Linked DNA regions of Homo sapiens: region 2 is linked to region 1. Evidence: fine-mapped expression QTL. Tissue or cell type: visceral fat. Region 1 holds a variant in brackets; the other region holds the start of a gene. All regions are shown on one strand. Distances are between the middles of the regions.

What was found. PIP is the estimated chance that this variant, and not a neighbour inherited with it, causes the effect.
Region 2: it holds the start of SVIL, and the variant in region 1 is fine-mapped to the expression of SVIL in visceral fat (GTEx, PIP 0.97).

What each region holds. Positions count from the first base shown.
Region 1 is chr10:29,922,134-29,930,241 of GRCh38, forward strand. No RefSeq gene overlaps it. Among named protein-coding and RNA genes, the nearest start is that of JCAD, 130 kb to the right of the region's middle. The variant C/T (reference allele first, on the strand shown) is at 4,660.
Region 2 is chr10:29,631,321-29,639,428 of GRCh38, forward strand. SVIL (supervillin) reads right to left here and starts at 3,651. Exons shown (of 38, transcript NM_021738.3): 1 at 3,100-3,651. RefSeq lists a silencer at 3,460-3,754 and an enhancer at 7,702-8,108.

The sequences.
Region 1 (8,108 bases):
TGCCGCTGCACTCCAGCCTGGGCAACAGAGTGAGACTCTGTCTCAAAAAAAAAAAAAGAAAGAAAGAAAAGAAAAGAAAGAAAGGAAGGAGGGAAGGAAGGAAGGAGGGAAGGAAGGAGGGAAGGAAGGAAGGAAGGAAGGAAGGAAGGAAGGAAGGAAGGAAGGAAGGAAGGAAGGAAGGAAAAAGAAAAGAAAATGCACAATAAGTGCAATGTGCTTGAATCACCTGAAACCACCCCCCAACCAACGCTGGTCTGTGGAAAAGTTGTCTTCCACCAAACCAGTCCCTGGTGCCAAAAAGGTTGGGGACTGCTGAGTTAGGGTAAATGCCCAAGAATTTCAGTAGAAAGCAGAAAGGAGCAAGCAGCAGGAAGCAGTGAAGCATGAGTAAGAGGAATCAAATAGGCAAAAATGTGGCAGAATAGATACAGAAACTGACCCTTAGTACCTGCAAAATGTCTGTTTGCACAAAGGATCTATAGCAGAGGGCAACTTTCTTTTGGAGCAGTGGAGAGTATTGGGAGAGACCTGTTTCTCAAAGCAGCTGTCATGATGCCCAGAGTGGCAGGAAGACTAAAGTTTGATGTGTTAAAATGGCCTCAGACCCCTAAATATATATAAATTTAAAAAGAATTTTATAAAAAGGCTTATTGTGGGGAAAAAGAAAAAAAAAATCTCAGGGTCCTTGTAGGAGTGAGTGCCAACCACTCCCTGAAGACAGGGTGTTTATAGTTGAGCTTCATTTTTCCAAGGCATACAGCATTTCTCCCCATTTGGAACTTGAAGTTGATGGTTGGGAGTAACAGTGTTCTTTAAACATTTTTTCTTTCCCTAGATGGAACATTCTTTCACATCTCAATTTGCAGGCATTCCCACAGAAGCGTCTGGCCCTCTTGGAATTTCTCATAACAATTCCAACTATCCCAGCTGCCACCTCCAAGCAATACTATATTCACTCACAAGGGTCAGAACGCCTGGGGTCTGCTTTCACCTTGAGTACACACCCTCAGGTGCTAGTTACACAGAGGCCCTGTCATGGGCAGGACTTGGGCCTGCTGGGACAGTGCTAGGGAGAGTCTTATGCCCGCTGCCAGCAACCAGCACACTTTCTTCCTGCTCTCGTCCAAGAAGGTGGCTTTGTGGCATTGAAGTAGTTTGGATAGGAGAAATTTTTCCTTTGAAAATCATATCTGGTACATTAGTAAAATCATCACACTGTTTTCCTCTTTCTCACTCTGACCCAGTAGACTTTCTTTTTTTAACTGATATCAACTAATAAGGCTGAGTTTTAGGTCTCTTCACTTATTTTCAGACAAAATCCTCTATGGATTAATCCTGGTGGCTTAGAGAGGACAAGTTCTTCTGAGTATTGTCTCTCAGGGATGTGCACAAGAAGGGCCTCACTGTGAAATGAGGTGAAGAGGGTGTGTGGGCGTGGGGGAGCGTGTTAATGATTGTTCCTTCCCTTTTCTCTTCCTAAATGTTCTAATTTTGTATCTCCTTAGAATGAAGATAGCTGAGGGCGTGGCCAACACACACCCAACATGTCTTCTCTTTAAAAGTTCAAATACAGCATTGCTATTTTTAAAAGACACATGGGGCTGTGCTGTCGTTGAACAATGCTAAGAGCTATTTGTGCTGGTCCCAACTTAACGCACAGCTGCCTGGGATGCTGACATCTTCATCTACAATACGAAAAGTCAGCGCTCAACCATAAATACTTTCTGAAGGCCTGGGGAGGTTTCCAGCTGTGGCAGGAGTGGCATAGACTCCCAGCTGAAAACATTTTCACTTGGCAAATGGAAGACCATGAAAGAAAACCTGGCCATGCTGTAGGGTCCTGATAATTAGGGAAAGGAAGCAGGTAAGTTGGAAATCCTGTGAGATCATGGCAAAGTGGAACAACATTTCTCCCTGTCCTATTTCTTGTTTCTTCTTCCCAACTCCACCCGACTTCAGCCTATGTACCAAAAAGTTAGAATGTCTTAGTAGAGCCGAAGGCCTGGGGAGGCCTCTCTGTCTCTCTCTGTCTCTGTCTTTATCATCTCTACCTCTGCCTTTATCTCTTGTTCCTTGTTGTCAATATCCCATCGTTAAAAACACAGGAGCATGAAGTAGCCACCTCTGGAAGATGCTCTTGAATAGGTATACAGGTATTCCTGAGCTCACACACGGACACAGCACAACCTGTAAATGCTTAAATGTGGGTGCATGCACATGTAAGCAACAGCAAGTCAAGACAGAGCCACTCAGCATCATGGTCACAGCCCCCATAGTTACACATGGCCAAATGGATGAGTGGTGGGAGACACCTGATAGGAGGTCCAATAACTCCAGCATTGGGCAGGACCCAGAAATACTTTAGACCCTTCACTAGATCCTTGAAAGGCAGTGGGATGGGAGGAAGGGGGAGTGGGCAATAAGGAAACATTCCTGGAGGTCGACAGAGCAGGGGCAGGAAGGGACAAAGGCCAGGCATGGTGGTTCATGCTTGTAATCCTAGCAATTTGAAGGGAGGATGAGGCAGCAAGATTGCTTGAGGCCATGAGTTCCGGACCAGCATGGGCAACACAGCAAGAGGCTGTCTCCACCAAAAAAAAAAAAAAAAAAAAATTAGATAAGTGAGGTGCTGCGAGCCTGTGGTTCCAGCTACTCAGTAGACTGAAGGAGGAGGATTGTTTGAGTTTAGGAGTTTAAGGCTGCAATGAACTCCTGCCACTGCACTCCAACCTGGGTGACAGAGTGAGACCCTGTCTCTCTTAAAAAAAAAAAAAAAAAGAAAAGAAAAGAAAACGAAAAAGAAGAAAGAAAGAGAAAGAAAGAAAGAAGAGAAAGAAAGAAAAGAAAGAAAGAGAAAGAAAGAAAGAGGTAAAGAAAAAGAAGGAGCAGAGCCAGGCTATTCCAACCCTTTGACCTCTCCCATTTGAGGGAGAAAACATATCCCAACCAGCCTCACGTCAATGTGGGCACCCCCATCACTACCTGGGAAGACTCTTAAGGAGGGGCAGGCACTGGGCTTTTCCTCATCTGCTCAGTACAGTAGGGGTGACTGGATATCAGGGCCATTCATGGGAAATCGAGGCAGAAGGTAGTGAGAGGCACTGTGAGAGGCTGCCCAGTGGGTGTCACAGACATTCACCTGGACTCACTCTGCAGGGTTACTACCCTTGGGGAAGAAATAAAATGGAAAGAAACAGAACCCTGCTATGATGGTTAACATTGTGTGTTAACCTGACTGGGCCATGGGTAGCTGGTTAAATGTTGTTCCCAGATGTGTCTCCGTGGGTGTTTCCAGAAGGGCATTTGGATTGGTGAGCTGAACAAAGCAGATGGCCCTCCCCAGGGTGAGTGGGCATCACCCCATCTGCTGAGGGTCTGAATGGAGCATAAAGCGGGAGGAAGGGTGAATTTGCTCTCTGCCTGGCTGCTTGGGCTGGAACATGGATTCTCCAGCCTTTGGTGCTCCTGGTGCTCACATCTTCAGACTTGGGGAAGTCACACCATTGGCTCTGTAGCTCTCAGGCCTCCCAACTAAATCACTGGCTCTCCTGGGTCTCCAGCTTGCAGAAGGTAGATCATGGGACTTCCCAACCTGCAGAGTCCAAATCTTTAGAGAGAAGCTAATTATAAGGTACTGGCTCACATGATTATAGAGGCTGAGAAACCCCATGACCTGCTGTCTACAAGCAGGGGACCAGGAAAAGGAGCTATATTTCTCTCATTGGTTTTGTGTTGTTATAAAAGAATACCTGAGACTGGGTAGTTTATAAAGAGGCTTATTTGGCTCATAGTTCTGCAGGCTGTATGAGCCTGGCACCAGCATCAGCTTGGCTTCTGATGAGCCCTCAGGGAGCTCTTACTCATGGCAGAAGGCAGAGGGGAGCAGGTGTGTGACATGGTGTGTTAGTTCGTTCTCACAGTGCTGTAAAGAAATGTCTGAGACTGGGTCATTTCTAAAGAAAAGAGGTTTAATTTTCTCATGGCTGTGCAGGATGTACAGGAAGCATGATGCTGGGGAGGCCTCCGGAAACTTACAATCATGGTGGAAGGCAAAGGGGAAGTAGGCACGTCTTACATGGCAGGAGCAGGAGGAAGAGAGTGAAGGGGGAAGTGCTACACACTTTTAAACAATCAGATCTCGGGAGAACTCACTCGCTATCACAAGAACAGGAAGCGGGAAATCTGCAGCATGATCCAATCACCTACCACCAGGCACCTCCCACAACACTGGGGATTACAATTCAACATGAGATTTGGGTGGGTACCCAAACCCAAACCATATCACATAGTGAGAGAGGGAGCAAGAGAAAGGGGAGGAGGTGCCAGCCTCCTTTAAACAAACAGCTCTCCTGTGAACTCACGGAGAGAGAACTCACTCATTACCATGGAGATGGCGGAGAGAGAATGCACTCATTACCATGGAGATGGCGTCTAGCCATTTATGAGGGACCCACTCCCATGACCCTAACACCTCCTACGAGGCCCCATTTCCAACAACGGGGATCACGTTTCAACATGAGATTTGGAGGGGAAAGATACCCAAACCATGTCAAGTTCTGTTTCTCTGGAGAACACTGACTGATACACCCGTCTACCTCCCACCCTGCTGTGAGTGAGGTACCCCACGAGGCTGCAATTGGATCTAAGGAAAATGCCTGG[C/T]CTGCCGCACTGCTGAAAGCCAGCAGGGGGCTGTTTTGGTTTGTGCAAGCACTGACATGCAGTGATTGTTCTGGTCACCGCATGATCTCCTGAAAGGAAAAATGCTGAAATACCACAAAACTGTCTTATGAACAAAGTCCCAAATGCTCCCTTAACTGTCCTAGAACCTTAGGCTGCCACTGATGCTTACGTTTTTGAATCCTTTTTTCTCCCAGTTTCTACGTCTTTAATTCCCAAAGATCAAATTCTAATGGAGTTCCCCATATCACTTAGGTTAAGTGCCAAAGTCCTCACAATGGCCTGCAAAATCTTGCGCCCCTCGTGTCTCTGACCACAACATCATCAGTTATCCCATTGTCCACTCTGCCCTAGACCCTCTATCTCCTTACTGTTCCCAAATGTGAGGCAAGCACCCATCTCAGGGCCTTTGCTTTTGCTGTCCCCTCTTTCTGGAAAACTCTTCCCTCAGATCTCTGTCAGGTGCCTTGTCACATTTCCTCAGGCCATATCGAAATGCCCCCTTCTCAGCAAGGCCTCCCCAGCCACCTGTCTCAAACCGCAAGTCCATTTCTCTACCCTCGTCTCCCTCCACTGCATTACTGCCCTCTTTAGCACTTCACATGAGCTAACTTCCATGCCATAACTTCCTTCCCTTCTTCCCCCGTCTTCCCCATCTGATAGTCCCCAGTTTCTTTTGTTGACATCTTTATGTCCATGCATACCCAGTGTTTAGCTCCCACTGATAAGTGAGAACTTACTTTCTAGGTTTCTTGGCCTTTCTTGCCATTAGGTTGAGGCCATAGGACTAATTTTGGTTAGTGGATGGTGAGAGGAAGTGACATGTGCCACTTCTAACTGAGGCAATTAAAAACCAAAAAGACCACATGTTCCAGATGGGGCAGCTGCAAGAGCAGAGCCTCCATCCACCCTGCCCTGAATGCCCGTGTGGAGCCGAGTGCCCTGTCAACATGCATGACTCATGTTTGGGATGTATCACTATTGCCCCTAGTCTTCACCTAACTAATGAGCATGCTTTCACCCTGAAAACACTACTATTGCAACTTACAAAACAAACAAAATAAAGATAATTCTTCATTGTGTAAGTTATTTTAAATAGCAACTTCTCTAGTAAAGTTTTTCTTTAGAGGTCACTAGCAATTGACATAGAAAAGAGGGATGATCAGGGGAAAGTGTTTGGAAGCATTGCCAATAGAAAATCAATGCAGATGGCCAGGCACGGTGGCTTGCACCTGTATTCCCAGCACTTTGGGAAGCCAAGGTGGGCAGATCACTTGAGGTCAGGAGTTAGAGACCAGCCTGGCCAACATGGCAAAACCCCATCTCTACTAAAACTACAAAAATTAGCTGGGCGTGGTGGCGTATGCCTGTAATCCCAGTTACTCAGGAGGCTGAGGCACGAAAATCGTTTGAATCCGGGAAGCTGAGGTTGCAGTGAGCCAAGATCCCACCACTGCACTTCAGCCATCCTGGATGACAGAGTGAGACCCTGAAAAAGAAGAAAGAAGGAAGGAAGGAAGGAAGGAAGGAAGGAAGGAAGGAAGGAAGGAAGGAAGGAAGGAAGGAAGGAAGGAAGGAAGGGAGGGAGGCAGGGAGGGAGGGGGAGAGGGAGAGGGAGAGGGATGGGGGAAAGAAAATCAATGCAGATAATGGCATCACTGAAATAAGTCATTAGGGAAATATCATTCTTATAACATCTACAGATGTTCTGAAGAATTAGATCCATCTCCAAAACCCGCAGTATTTCTGGCTTACCGTCAGTGTTTGTTATTCTCCCTGATGGCCAGATCTCGGATGCTGGTATGTTTCCCTTTCCCAAGCTAACACATGCCGCTTCCATTCTTTCCCCAAGTGTTTCTTTGGTCATCTCTGTCTTCACTCCTCTCCCATGCCTCTAGGAGCACCACACAGACAGTAGCCTTCTTAGGAAGTGAACCAGGTCAATTCATTCCCTTCCTTGAAAGTGGTGGGAAAGGTCCAAACTCCATTCCACAACAGACAAGACTTTGTGCACAATCCTGCCGTGCTTCTCTCTTCCACCTCATTGTAAGGTTCTTGTATCGGTTCCAAGCCCAAGAGCGTGCCAACAGACAACACGAGGCCCTGTGGAGCAACACGCTGTTTTAATGAGTGCCTGGGTACAGGCGGGCTGAGGCCTAAAACGGCCTCAGCACCAAATGAGGATGGGGCAGGGGTTTTATGGTCTCCTGTAAACAAGAAGTGTCTCAGTCTGACGTGACTGCTACATACTACCCGGACAGCCTCTTTCTCGATCTTCGGGGGTACGTGTCTTCCGGCCAGGGTAGGTGTCTTCCGGCTGGCTTTCTTCCTGCTTCTGCTCTCTTGCTGGCGCATGCTGCTGGTGCAAGTAGCCTTGCTCTTTGGCACTGGGCCTGAGAAGGGAGGAGTTCCTCATCCCTTCAAGCTTTCAGGCCGTGGGGAGAATCTTTCACTCATCTCAGGCCTCACATCCCTCTAGACCTACATTGACCTTTCTCTGTTCTTTGTCTATGCCTCAGATGTGTGTGTTATTCCCTCTGCCCAGAGTTTTTGGGTTTCAAGCTTCACGTGCCTGGTTAAACTGAACTCCTCTTTCAGACACTTTAAATAGTGCTACTCCTTGGTTTAAATGGTACCACTTCTGAGAGGTCTTCCCTCATTATCTTGTCTTTACCCTCTGCCCTGTTCCACACTATTTAATCATTGTTTCCAGCACCTTTGACAATTTATAATTACATTATTTGTTTTCATGTTTTTTTCTTCCCCCATTAGAATGATAGGTCCATGAGAGTCTCCGAGGTAGGAAGGATCTGAGATTTTACTTTACCTACAAGATAACTAGCTAGCCCACCACAATTTCATAAATGCTGGCAGAAGACACAAGACTCCTGGATCAGAGACAAAGAACTTTACTACTCACAGCACAGAAAGCAGCATGAGCTTCATGTTTTTTGGTTTTCTCTTGATCCTCAAGTCTCACAGGGACAACAGAGATGCCCAGATGGATGGCACACATACAGTGGGTGGCATCATGGATGAGGGAACCTGTGCTTAGGCAAGGCCAATCTTTTATAATGGGATGCAAGCAAACCTGCCTGACCTTGGCCCTGGAGGGAGAAATCTTTATTACATTGGGTAGTGTATTAGTCATGGATCTCTAGAGGGACAGAACTAATAGGATAGATGTATCTGTGAAGGGGAGTTTATTAAGGAGTATTGACTCACACTATCACAAAGTGAAGTTCCACAATAGGCTGTCTGCAATCTGAGGAGCAAGGAAGCCAGTCCAAGTCCCAAGACCACAAAAGTAGGGAAGCCAACAGTGCAGCCTTCAGTCTATGGCCGAAGGCCCGAGAGCCCCTGGCAAACCACTGACTTAAGTCTAAGAGTCCAAAAGCTGAAGAACTTGGAGTCCAGTGTTCGACGGCAGG
Region 2 (8,108 bases), 290 kb before region 1:
TAAGGGCAAAGCAGTAGCCCAGGTAAGAGATGGCGAGGCGAGGCCAGGCGCGGTGGCTCATGCCTGTAATCCCAGCACTTTGGGAGGCCGAGGTGGGCAGATCATGAGGTCAGGATTTCGAGACCAGCCTGACCAACATGGTGAAACCCCATCTTTACTAAATATACAAGAATTAGCCGGGCGTGGTGGCGGACACCTGTAATCCCAGCACTTTGGGAGGCCGAGGTGGGCAGATCATGAGGTCAGGATTTCGAGACCAGCCTGACCAACATGGTGAAACCCCATCTTTACTAAATATACAAGAATTAGCCGGGCGTGGTGGCGGACACCTGTAATCCCAGCTACTCAGGAGGCTGTGGCAGGAGAATCCCTTGAACCCGGGAGGCAGGGATTGCAGTGAGCCGAGATTGTGCCATTGCACTCCAGCTTGGCTGACAGAGTGAGACTCCATCTCAAAAAAATAAAAAATAAAAAAGATGGCGAGGCTTAAGAGGAGGTGGTGGGGCAGAGGCCTCGGGGACCTAAAGGGAGAGGAGTCAAGGGTGACCAGAAGATTCCTAGTTGAGTCACAAATCAATGAAGCCCAGAACTGCTGGAAAGTTCTAGACCTACGGATACTCCCAGTCACAGCAAGGCACCCTGAGATCAGCGCTTTAACATAAAATTGCAATGAGTGTCCTAAAATCCCAGGCAGCTGCAGATTCAGGAGATGATTCCAAGGCTGCCTTTGTACCCTAACAATCACAAGGCTCCTAGCAGCTTACTCTCCATAACGCTCCATGTAGCCCGAGAGCCCTGCATGCTGGAGCTCACCAGACATCCTTATAAAAATCCCAAGGGCCCTTTCCTTTGGATGCAATTCCTCAACTGTAGAATATTAAATAACTCGCCGGGTGTGGTGGCTCATGCCTGTAATCCCAGAACTTTGGGAGGCCGAGCGCTGGTAGATCACCTGAGGTCAGGAGTTCAAGACCAACCTGGGCAACATGATGAAACCCTGTCTCTACTAAAAATACAAAAATTAGCTGGGCGCAGTGGCATATGCCTGTAATCCCAGCTAGTAGGGAGGCTGAGGCAGGAGAATCACTTCAGCCCAAGAGGTGGAGGTTGCAGTGAGCTGAGATTGTGTCATTGCACTCCAGCCTGGGCAACAGAGCAAGACTCCATCTCAAAAAAAAAAAAAAGAAAAAAGAAAAAAAGAATACTATATAACCCCAGGTGTTGCCAAAGATGTTCACTCTGAATTGAACTCCAAAGTCTTCCAGAAGTCTGTTTATCACAAAACAGTCTGTCTCCAAAGTAGAAGCAAAGATAAAGAACTGTTTGTTGAATGGCTGACTGATGTCCACTGCAAGCTGAGCGCATTAACCAAATTTCACTTGGAAGACTATGCATGTGGCAAAATTAAATGCACCAATAGTACTAAATAAAGGTAGGCAGGAAGGCACCTAATGTACTACAATAGCTTGTATAACATCAGCCTCATCCAGTGATCAAGGTGACCAAATAAATTATCTTTAACACACACACACACACACACACAGAGTATAGACTCCAAAGTTTCCATTGTAAGACAAATTCTCTGACACTAGTGCACACTTGATGCCCTGGATCCTCAAGACATCACCGGGTGCCGGGTGCAGGGGCTCACGCCTATAATCCCAGCACTTTGGGAGCCCAAGGTGGGCGGATCACGAGGTCAGGAGTTCAAGATCAGCCTGGCCAACATAGTGAAACCCCGTCTCTACTAAAAATACAAAAAAAAATTAGCTGGATATGGTGCCAGGTGCCTGTAATCCCAGTTACTTGGGAGGTTGAGGCAAGGAGAGTCACTTGAACCTGGGAGGTGGAGGTTGCAGTGAGCCGAGATCGTGCCACTGCACTCCAGCCTGGGTGACAGCACGAGACTCCATCTCAAAAAAAAAAAAAAAAAAAAAAGACATCACTGGTTTTGGTGAGAAGAGACAGCACACATCTGCCTGGCACTGGGCTGCTCTTCTTTGGAGACAGAGGGTACAATTTATATCCTGCAGTTTTACTCAACAGGGGATACCACCAGCAGTTTGGCCAGGGTAATGCTGTATGGGACTGTCCCCTACACCATGTAAATTGGGCATTTACAATTCTTAACCACATCCTCCCAAATGCCAGTGAGTCATTGAGAAAACCTGAAACACCCCCATGCATTTTCAAACGCCCCCTAGGGTTGCCACACTATCTCCGGTGAAGAACCCTCGCAGTATTCACCGATGAAGTTCTTCTCTATAAATACTCTGTTTTCCTACCTGGTAAAAATAATGACTGCCCGTACTTGTCCATCTGATGTGGTATAAAGAAATAATCTTTTTTTTTTTTCAAAGAAGCAACACGTCAAATAAGCCTTCTATGTTCTAGAGTTCACTGCTGTTTTTCAGCAGAAACAAATCACTGAGCTAAATTACAAAGAGACCATAGCAATCTCCAGGGCTTTAAAAGGCTGATGCAGTATTTTTTCTTGGAGAATTTAAAAATAAAATGCAGTTCAAACTCTAGAACCTACAGTGAGGTTTTTCTCATAAATTCTGGAACATCGCAAGTTCTAGAAATCAAGCCCTGAAGAATGAGAGTACCAAGGCAAAGAACCCTCAGAACAAAGATTATGCAAAAGGATCACTGGTGATTTTCTATTTTTACATGAATTATAATGGCAGTGAAATAAAACTTGCCCTTCTGAACTCCACCCCCATACTTGTGCTACGATTATTAAAGTACGTTGCATTGTGAATATACTTTAATTCCAAGACTTTAAGTGCTAACATTTAGACAGAATGTACTAAGTTATATTAATCAAATTTTTAGTATTAAACCTTTCTCTACCATAAAGTAAATCCTTTAAAAAAAAAAAAAAGTCCAATCCTTCTCAACCCAAGAAATATGCCCAAGGGTATCTACAGGAATGGCTGCAGTAACTGGCAAACGCTGGCAGGAATTTTCCAATGACTGAAGTCAACAAATCCTCAGGAAACATGCTCAGACAGATGGCACTTAAAAAAAAGCAAAAACAAAAACAACAAAAAAAAACCTACTGCATTTAGATTTATAGGAAGATTTTTCACTTACTTCAAATTTCTGTATAATCCTCGTTCCTCTAAGTTAAAGGGGGAAAGAAAATCACACTGCAATTCCTTATTTTTCTAATTTAAAAAACAAAACAAAACACGTTATACCCTCGAATCCAGCTTTTGATGTCTTCGAGTATTTTCTTGGAGTCTCTTTCCAATGAATACTACTTTCAAATTCTAAGCACAAAGTAAAATCCCAAAAGTTAGCCCAAATAGCGTTGTACAAAATCAAAGATCACGATGTCAGCAAGCAACTGCATCTATCAGAAGCGATGATGATTCAGAACAGGATAAATTTAGAATGGTGTTTTCCAAAAGGCTTTTTGGATGTCAAATTCAGGAAACAGGTAAAGGCTACATCCCAAAAGTTCCTCTCCAAAAAGAACGCCAAAATATTAATAAAAAGAGTCTTCTTTTTGAAGTTTTTCGTCCCCTAGTGTCCTCGAGGCTGAACTTCCCCAACCTGGCCTCGGTGGAGCCATCCATTACTGGGCAAATCCACATGAAACCTGAGGACACTTCAGCCTGGGGAGGACGCAGTCAGAGCAGTGAAGCAACTTCACATGGGACGGGCCTTTTATGGCCTGAACTCGAGAGCCTTGATACCAGCTCATCTACCAGAAATAGCCCTGGAAATTCAGAGGAGCCCATCAGCTGTTGCAGCAGGCCTGGCCAGCAGCTACTTCAAATGCAATTAGGTTGTCCACACTGTCTTTCAGCTTGTTGTATAGAGAAATTAAAAATACAACAGCAGTCTACTGAATAAGCTACAACAATACAGATTTGGATGAGCAAACATTTCTCTAACTTAGTTTTTTTAGGCTAAAAAAAGAGCACACAATCGTTGACAAAGCTCAGACACTGAACACCCCAAAAGTAAGTAACAGACATATATACAATGAATGCCCGAAAAGTAACTAACAGACATACACATCTATGAAACAGCATGATATAATGGCACATGTCTCTACAAGTTTACAAATTCTGTAACCTCTGTGGATTTCTTCCCACTTCCAATAACTGTAGAAAATGAATCATCAGAAGAAAGCATTGTGCTGGAAGTACTTTCTCGAAAATGACACAAATATTTTCTCTTAAAGCCAAAGTCAGTCCTCTGAACTGGCAAGATCTATCTTCCTATGGCTCTCAGGTAGCTCACCTCACTGAAAAACCAGATGAACCTAACCTAATGAAAAAAATATTAACTATGAAGCACAACCACTTCTTAAATGGCCATATGCATTTTTTTAAACATTAAAAGGCCACTGACATGTTGAATACACTCAAACAAATATCACAACCCTGTTTACAAAATACTTACAATTGTAGGTCTCTGTCCCTGTCGGTACCAAGAACAGAGAGTCTTAATTGTCTGCACCAACTTCAGTATAAACCACAAACCCCATAAGACTTGGGCTGGAGTACAGCAAAAGCTGTGTGCTGCGCGGGGCCTCCCAGTGGTATGCCTCTGGGTGTCAGGGTTCTCAGACCACCAGCTGCTTCGGCCAGCACAGGAGGCCTCTCAAAGCAGGATCTAAATTCCTGTTACTAATTAACCCTACAGAACAATGCCTCTCCCTAAGAGGACAGTCCTGAGGCCAGGTGAAAAGATGACAGGTATAATAATTAAACATTGGCTTCATGACTGTTTTGTGCTAGGGGTATTTGTCCCAGTCAACTGTTTTTTTTTTTTTTTACCCATCTCAAGATAACAAACAAACAAAATTTCATAGCATGGCTTTTGCATCCTAATCTCAGTCCTGACCCTGATCTTCTTTTCCCTTGGACCATATTGGCTTTTTCCTCATTTTAAAGTTTATTTGATCTTGTTTTACGTATTTTTATAAGCTGTGGTAAGCCCCTCCCTAGAGAAAAGTAGGGCAAAAATAAATAAAAACTTACATGAAACAGTTCACTATTTGGGTCTTCTCTGTAAAGAGAAGATAGGAGGAGAAAATGAATCACTGTTACCACAATAGTGCTATTTCCTTCCTAAAAAAAGATTCACTCCCACAAAATAAACATCAGTCTTTTGTGTGCCTCTTAAGTTTTTGCACACTGCTTCCCCATAGCAACCAAACTGTCCTAGATTAATACACTGGAGTCTAATAGGGTAAATCTCCTTCGTCACTTCTTTTATATATCCTTTCTGTCTTTGATTATTTAAATCCCAGTTAATTCTTCCTGTGCAATCCATTTACTTTCCTAATTTTTTTGCTATCTGCCTGGCTTAGAAGACTCATCATACTCACTTCTTTCCAATGATGATAATCATGAATTGGAAGAAAAATCAACACACAAAAGATGTCAATTGTCCCCAAACTGATCTACAGATTAACAAAATTCCTATCAAAATCTTGCAAGGTTTTTTTGTTTTGTTTTGTTTTGTTTTGTTTTTTTGAGACATGGTCTTGCTCTGTTGTCCAGGCTGGAGTAGAGGTGTGCAATCATGGCTCACTGCAGCCTCAACCTCCCCAGGAGGCAGTCCTCCTGCCTCAGCCTCCTGAATATCTGGGGCTACAGATGTGCACCACCACACTGGGCTAATTTTTTAATTTCTTAGTTTTTGTAGAGATGGAGTCTCATTAGGTTGGCCAGGCTTGTCTTGAACTCCTGGGCTCCAGCTGTCCTCCCACTTCGGCCTTCTTAAGTGCTAGGATTACAGGTGTGAGCCACCCTGCCTGGCCTCACAGTGATTTTTGGCAGATATTCTAAAATTTATAGTAAAGGTACAGGCCCTAGAATAGCTAAAAACCATCTTGAAAAAGAAGAAAAAAGTTAGTCTGGGCGTGGTGGCTCATGCCTGTAATCCCAGCACTTTGGTAGGCCGAGGCGGGTGGATCACCTGAGGTCAGGAGTTCGAGACCAGCCTAATGAACATGGTGAAACACTGTCTCTATCAAAAATACAGAAAAATTAGCCAGGCGTGGTGGTGCACACCTGTAATCCCAGTTACTAGGGAGGCTAAGGCAGGAGCATCGCTTGAACCCAATCCTGGGAGGCAGAGGTTGCAGTGAGCCAAGATCATGCCACTGCACTCCAGCCTGGGCCACAGAGTGAGACTCCGTCTCAAAAGAAGAAAAAAGTTAGAGCAATGAATCTATCCCATATTAAGGCCTACTGGATAACTACAGTAATCAAGACAACACAGCATTGGCAAAAAGAGAGACACATAACATAGATCAGTGGAACAGACTGGAGAACCCAGAGACAGGCCCACATGAATATGCCAAACTGATTTCTGTGCCATTCAACAAACAGTGCTAGAGCAATTAGACACCCCTAGGCAAAAGCAATGAGCTTCTACCCAATCCTCATTGTGGTACATCCATACCATGGAATACTACTCAACAATAAAAAGGAACAAATTATTAGTACGTTCCACGACCTGGATAAGAATCCAGGGAATTAAATTATGCTGAGTGACAGAAAGCCAATCCCAAAATGTTAGATACTATACGAGTACACTTACATAGCATTTCCCAGATGACAACATTATAGAAATGGAGAAGAGATGGGAGTTGTTAGAGGTTAGGGATGGGGATGAGGTGGTTTAACAGGGCCACATGAGAGACCCCTGTTCTGGAACTCTTCTATTGGATTGACCACATCAGTGTCAATATCCTGGTTGTGATACTATTGTATAGCTTTGCAAGATGTTATCACTGGAGAAACTGGGTAAAAAGCCCTCATGATCACTTTGTACTATTTCTTACAACTACATCTGAATCTATAATTATCTCAAAATTAAAAGTTTAAGCAGGGCGGGGTGGCTCACACCTGTAATCCCAGAACTTTGGGAGGCTGTGGCGGATGGATTACCTGAGGTCAGGAGATTGAGAACATCCTAGCCAACGTGGTGAAACCCTGTCTCTACTAAAAATACAAAAATTAGCCAGGCATGGTGGCTGGCATGTGCCTGTAATCCCAGCTTCTCGGGAGGCTGAGGCAGGAGAATTGCTTGAACCCGGGAGGCGGAGGTTGCAGTGAGCTGAGATCATGCCATTGCACTCCAGCCTGGGTGACAAGGGTGAAACTCTGTCTCAAAAAAAAAAAAAGTTTAATTAAGTATTTTTTCCAAGGAAAAAGCATCCCAACCCCAAAAAACAAACCTACTTCAAATGAAACTTTCAAATATAATCCATTTGTAAATGGGTGACTTACTGTAACTGTACTTCACATAAATCTATAGAGATTTACTTATTATCAATGCCATCTTACGAATTTCAAACTGGAAATATTTATTTTTCCCTATAAGAATGAAAGTTAATCCGAAAGTAAAATATTTGATACAGAATAAGAAATGGAAAGCATTGCTTTCCAATTGAATGTGTTTATTTAGCAGGCTGTGTAGATACTTAAAAAGAGCACCTCTAATACCTAGGGCCCATCCAAAAATAAAAAAGGAAACCTGCACATAATTTTCAGAAATTTCATCTACTGCCCCAGATTATTAATTTTTAAAACCTGACCAACTCTGGAGAAATAGCAAGAAAACAACTTTTTGGAAAGGGAGGAGATCGGGTCATCTCAATTTTTGATTATATTTCATTTTTAGAGACAGGTTCTCACTATTTGGCTCAGGCTGGTCTTGAACTCTTGGGCTTATGTGATCCTCCTGCCTCAGCCACCTGAGTAGCTGGGATAACGAAAGTGTGTCACTGCACTGGTCTTCCAATGTGAATACTGCTATAAATATAATAGAAAACAAGTTTTTGAAATCTGTTCTCTAGAACTCTTCCCCTTTCTTTTTTGTTTTTCTTTTTCTTGAGACAGAATCTCACTCTGTCACCAGGCTGGAGTGCAGTGGCGCGATCTTGGCTCACTGCAATTTCCTCCTCCCGAGTTCAAGTGATTCTCCTGCCTCAGCCTCCGGAGTAGCTGGGACTACAGGTGTGCGCTAGCACACTCAGCTAAGTTTTGTATTTTTAGTACGACGGGGTTTCACCATGTTGGCCAGGATGGTCTCGATCTCTCGATTTCGTGATCTGCTCACCTCAGCCTCCC